Regions from separate parts of the Homo sapiens genome. Here region 1 is linked to region 2. The links come from fine-mapping of genetic effects on gene expression. A gene starts in region 2. The other region holds a variant in brackets. All regions are shown on one strand. Distances are from middle to middle.

Region 1 (3,008 bases), 24 kb before region 2:
CCCACTCCACCACTGACAAAAGAGAACTGAAAAGATGAAAAGGAAGTGAAAACTGTTCCAGGAAACTGCCCTCCCATAAACCATGCCCAAGATCCCTGACACTTTTTACAATTTGGAAAGAATTCATGCCCTTAAATTAAAACATATGTTGGCTTGAAAACATCAGTAAAAGTAAAAGCAGGCTGGGCGCAGTGGCTCACGCCTGTAATCCCAGCACTTTAGGAGACCAACGCAGGCGGATCACGAGGTCAGGAGTTTGAGACCAGCCTGGCCAACATAGTGAAACATCGTCTCTACTAAAAATACAAAAATTAGCCAAGTGTGGTGGCATGCACCTGTAGTCCCAGCTACTCGGGAGGCTGAGGCAGGAGAATTGCTTGAACCTGGGAAGCGGAGGTTGCAGTGAGCAGAGACCATGCCACTGCACTCCAGCCTGGGTGACAGAGTGAGATTCCATCTCAAAAAAAAAAAGTAAAAGCAAATTTTTTAAATCAGTGTTTTGTTTCCCTTCTCCCTGCCTCCTAATATCTCTGCTTGCCCCTCTCCCTCACCCCACAATGGAGACCCAGAAATTCATCTCATCCAGGTCAAAGAGGAAAGATTAACATAATAATCACTAAACAATGTCTGTGAAATGTAACTTTTGGTTAGCCACCTACAATTCTTTTTGGAATAAAGAAGGATATAAATAATTAATTGAGTTAAAATACACACACGGCCGGGCACCGTGGCTCATGCCTATAATCCCAGCACTTTGGGAAGCTAAGGCAGACAGATCACAAGGTCAGGAGATTGAGACCATCCTGGCCAACATGGTGAAACCTCATCTCTACTAAAATACAAAAAATTAGCCGGGCGTGGTGGCGTGTGCCTGTAGTCCCAGCTACTTGGGAGGCTGAGGCAGGGGAATAGCTTGAACCCAGGAGGTGGAGGTTTCAGTGAGCCGAGATCGCACCACTGCACTCCAGCCTGGCGACAGAGCAAGACTCTGTCTCAAAAAAAAAATGCACACACAGTCTGGTTAAGTCTATCACTGCTCCTGGCTAAGTAGCCTGACACCTGCTGAGTGCTATGCCTTGGCATCCTGGTGCCCATGTGAAAAAGCCAATGGTTGTCTTGAAGGGACTGTCTCATGGAAGGGTCAGGTGCAGGGCAGGAGGGTGGGAAGGTCAGGGAGAGGAATGCTTGCTCACTCTAAGGAGGAAACGTTCTACCAGAGAGGCTGTCTGGCAGGGCACAGAGCTTCTCTCCCTGGAGGTTTGCAGCAGAACCCAGATGGCCTGGTCAGGTCAGATGCTGTGGAAACAGCACAGCACTGGGAGGTGATTTCAGTGCCTACCGCTCTACCCTTAGGCAAACCCTTCCCACTCAGGGCTTCCGTAGCTTCCCCTCAAACTGGGAAAAGAATCCCTGCTCTGTTCTCCTCACAACAAAGTGGTGAGGGAAAACAGACAAAACAGATTGA[C/G]TGGATCACGTGATAGAAGCATTACGCAAATACGCAACTCCCTGGTACCTGGGATACCAGAGATGGCTGAGGAGGCACCGTGGCATCACGTATCCCCGAGGGATCACTGTGACCCCTGTGTCTAAGCAAAGACTGGCAACAGAAATTTGCTGGGTGAAGCTGGGGAAGGTGGTACACCCATCTTGAGACCCACACCTTATAAAGGAGCAGCCTGGCCTCAAAGGGGCTGCCCCAGGCACCAGACCAGAGGAGAAAGTACAGCTCGGGAGCAGCAGCTCCACCCAGGCCACTGCCCACCTCTCAAGCCGCTGGAGGGAGTGAGGAAAACTCCTGTGGCAAAAAAGGAAAGACTGGGGAAGGGGATGGAAGAAAAAAATTTAACATGGAAAGTAAGGCATAAGTACAGGATTTTCAGTTTGCAGATGACCTCACTGTCACCCATCCTCAAGGAACATGTGAGGCCTAGGTGTTACTGAGCTAGGGAGAGGCAGAGACATGCCAGAAGCCAGGCCTCCTGCCCTTTGCCCAGGCCACCATACCCTACTGTCTCTCAAAATTCCCAACACTGTGCTCTACCCCTCCTTTCTGCTGTGTGTTGTCCCTGGGAAAAGCAGGCATCTTGGCACAGGTAAATTGGAATTGAAGGAGGGAGCAGACAGGAAGTGAGAAGATAAAGACAAACAGGGCTGCTTTTATAGGGAATACAGCCTGAGAAAATACAAAGGGCGAAGAGATGTCTGGAAAAAAACGTCATCTTAAGGAGCGGGAGAGATAACTAGCATATGGCACAGGAAGGTAAAGACCACCACTCACTCCAAGAAAAGTGCCTAGCCAGACACCTGCCCTCAAGGCTTAAGCATCCTTCCACCCCCTCTTTAATCAGCTACCTCAAAGGGGCACACTGAAATTGGACTGGAGAGCCATAAGGGCCAATGCAGTATCTGCAAGACTCCTTCAATCCAAGTTCTCCTTGGATCTATTCACCTGTTCTACAACTTGATGATCCCAAGTACTGTTTACCAACAAGATGATGAAACACATTCAGGGGCAGGCTTTTCACTAAGGACATCTTCTTAGGCTGTTGCCAGCACACTATTTCAAGAAGAAAACAGAACTCCTGACTCAGAGTTGTTTCTGTGCTTTTAAGGCACGTAGAGCAACATCGATGTTATTGTTTCCTGTGTACACGGCCCTGGATACTTTTCAAAATCCTTGTTTCATTTGCTCCTCGTAACAACTTGTAAGGGACCTGGAAAGTCAGTTTTCCCCCATTTTGTAGGTGAAGAGAACATGGCCTGTGTAGGGTTGTACACTGACTCAAAAAGTCAAAGCTAGAACACAAGTACTCCTTCCTGACCCCCAAACCTGTGTTCTGTTCCTCTGCTCTTTTCCCGAGCTTTCATGGGCTAAGCTCCCCTTATAGAAGTAGGAAGGGAGACAACTTAGGAGGTTATCTAGACCATTCCCGCCTTCTCCCCCCACCAGCAGTCCTTTTCAGTTAGCTCCCCAAAACAGAGCAGCTGCCTCTGCCTAGGTAATCCAT
Region 2 (2,722 bases):
CGTGACTTAGCCAAAAGCACTGGTTATACCTCTATACCTCGGAGCCGACACTGAAAGCCCCGGCCATAGTCTTTCTGCCCCAAGGAAAGCCTGGGGTGGGGGTGGGTGATATTGTCAAGAGCCAGGCCCCAGCTCCTCATACACACAGCTCATTTGCTCTCCCTCCCAACCCCCACCTTCATACTTCTTCCACACGCATACCAAAGAAAATAAGAATCTCAAGGTTGGAAAATCCCACTTTACTTCAAGTGAAGTCACTGGGTTGTCCCCATGAAATATCTCCACAATGGGTGTGCTAGACCTTTACTCTCTGTGGCACCACCAAGACCCCCTCACCCTGCCAGAGCCCTCTGAAGTGTACTCAGAATGGAGGGGCTGGAAGTGGGGCCAGTGGTCCTGGTAGTCAGCCTCCCCTTCTGACACAAGAATTATCGTGGAACAGCTTGTGTGACCGATCAACTGGTCTCTCCATCTTTAAGCCATTGTCTTGTTGACTCTGTTACTGCAGAGTTTGGGGAGGTCTCATGGCTTCTCGCATCCTATTTCCTGAGCTTCCCTGAAGCCAACTTCTGGCCACTGGTATGTGATGCGAGCACAGTGCCTCCTCCTGCTCCTCCAGGAAGCTTCTGCTGATTGAACGCAGGCCAGATGGCGAGATCCGGAGCAACCTTCTTAGATCAAGGGAAGAAAGGGGCACAAGAGGGGAGTAGGTAACAAGATAAAAGGAGCTCCCTCCCTGATGACTACAGAGCCATCGTGGCAGCCCTGGGCCTCCATTTCAGACGTTCATCTTGCCTAAGCCACCACCATCAGGGTCTCAGTCAGTCATCATTCTCATTTACTCGGGTGGCTGGGTGAGGGCGGAATACTACCTTCCAGCTGTCTGAGATTAAGCCTAAGCCACCACCATCAGGGTCTCAGTCAGTCATCATTCTCATTTACTCGGGTGGCTGGGCGAGGGCGGAATACTACCTTCCAGCTGTCTGAGATTAAGCAGAACAGCAGCTAAAGCAGTAACAGCAGGTCTCCTTCAGCAGCTTGCCACAGGGAAGAGGGTCCCGCGTGAACCGAACTCAACTTCCACCTGCGCAGAGGTAGCTACCATTTGCGTAGAGGTAGCTGGGTCTTTAAGGTTAGAGGGAAGGCGCAGGGAGGGAGAGACGGCGGGTGGGGGTTGAACAAAGTGGAGATTCACAAAAGCAGACTAGGGCGGGCGACGTGATCAGATGACCTGTGCGGGCGGCAGCCTCCTGCCCTCCTCCCCTTCGTGCGCCGGCTGGAGCGAAGAGTTCTTTTGACAGCCGTGAGCTTCCCCGCCAGGAACTTACTGGGGCTGCATCACCCTAGAAACGTGGCTTTGGGCTGTGGAAACGCTGCCTCTGTGGAAGTCTCTCCTCGCGGGGGTGGACGGGTCGCTGCGCGCCCAGCGTTCTTCTGCGGTTCTCACAGCCCGCCGCCGCCGCCGCCTCGGGGACCTTTGCGGGGAGGCCTCAGGTCAGCGCCGCCCTTGCGATGGCGGGAGAGCAGAGCGGCCCCAGGGCCTCTGAGCTCCGGCCCCGGCACGTCCCGCCCTCTCCTCCGCTTGCGGGAGCCGGGGCGCCTCGGAGGGAAACCTTCCGGACACAGGCCGGGAGAAGAGGGGCCGTGGCGCCATCGCGCAGCTTCCTGGTTTCGGCCATGTTTTTTTTTTTTTGAGACGGAGTTTCGCTCTTTTTGCCCAGGCTGGAGGGCAATGGCGCCGTCTCGGCTCCCTGCAGCCGCCGCCTCCCGGGTTGAAGGGACTCTCCGGCCTCAGGCCGCGGTGTTCTTGTAAATTAGAACCGGCCTATGCGCCAAGCGCGGGTCTCGCGGCTGCGGAGAGAGGCCCAGCAGGGGGCGGGGACGCCGGGAGGCGGGGCCTGGCCGAGCTGCGCACACCCGGGTGGTTCTGGCTACGGGTACCCGGACCTGCCCAACGACCGTTCTCCATTCCCGACCTCCGCACCCTACCCGGTCCGCAGGGCACCTTCCTCCTCTCTCTCAGGCACGTCCTCGACCTCAGTTGCCACGTGCACATGCTGGTGCCTTCCAGGTCGGTCTTTCTCCACCAGACTCCACCTGGAACTTTCTTCCTTTTCGTCCTGTGCTGGCCTAACCCCTGCTCGGCCTCGGCCCTCAGCTGCCGGCTCTAACAAAGCCTCTGTCTTTCCCAGACCCCTGTGACCAGGTCAGGCTCTGCTCCCTGCGTTCCTCTCTCCTTGCTTCCCTCCTCCTCCCCTCCCCAGAATCGCTTGAACCTGGGAGGCAGACGTTGCAGTGAGCTGAGATCGCACCATTGCACTCCAGCCTGGGTGACAAGAGCGAGACTCCATCTCAAAACAAAAAACAAAAAACACAACTCTTGCTGGCTCCTTGATTTTAGCCCAGTGAGATTCACTTCTAATTTCTTTTTTTCTTTGAGACAGTCTGTTCTGTCACCCAGGCTGGAGTGCAGTGGCGTAATCATGGCTCACTGCAGCCTCAACCTTCCTGGACTCAAGTGAACCTTCCACCTCAGCCTCCCAGGTAGCCGGGACTACAGGGGTGCACCAGCATGCCTGGCTAATTTTTGCATTTTTTGTAGAGATGGGGTTTCACTATGTTGCCCAGGCTGGTCTGAAACTCCTGTGCCCCAGCAGTCCTCCTGCCTTGGTCTCCCAAAGTTCTGAGATTACAGGCATGAGCCACTGCGCCTGGGCTTCCA

Evidence for each region.
Region 1: its variant is fine-mapped to the expression of LINC00847 in whole blood (TOPMed, PIP 0.93).

Annotation. Positions count from the first base shown.
Region 1 is chr5:180,805,290-180,808,297 of GRCh38, forward strand. It overlaps a transcript of MGAT1 not described here. Among named protein-coding and RNA genes, the nearest start is that of MGAT1, 4.0 kb to the left of the region's middle. The variant C/G (reference allele first, on the strand shown) is at 1,466.
Region 2 is chr5:180,829,736-180,832,457 of GRCh38, forward strand. LINC00847 (long intergenic non-protein coding RNA 847) reads left to right here and starts at 1,222. Exons shown (of 3, transcript NR_045679.1): 1 at 1,222-1,494. It overlaps HEIH (hepatocellular carcinoma up-regulated EZH2-associated long non-coding RNA), which reads right to left and starts at 1,883. Exons shown (of 1, transcript NR_045680.1): 1 at 219-1,883. It also overlaps a transcript of ZFP62 not described here. RefSeq lists silencers at 1,448-1,497, 1,858-1,987, 2,428-2,597.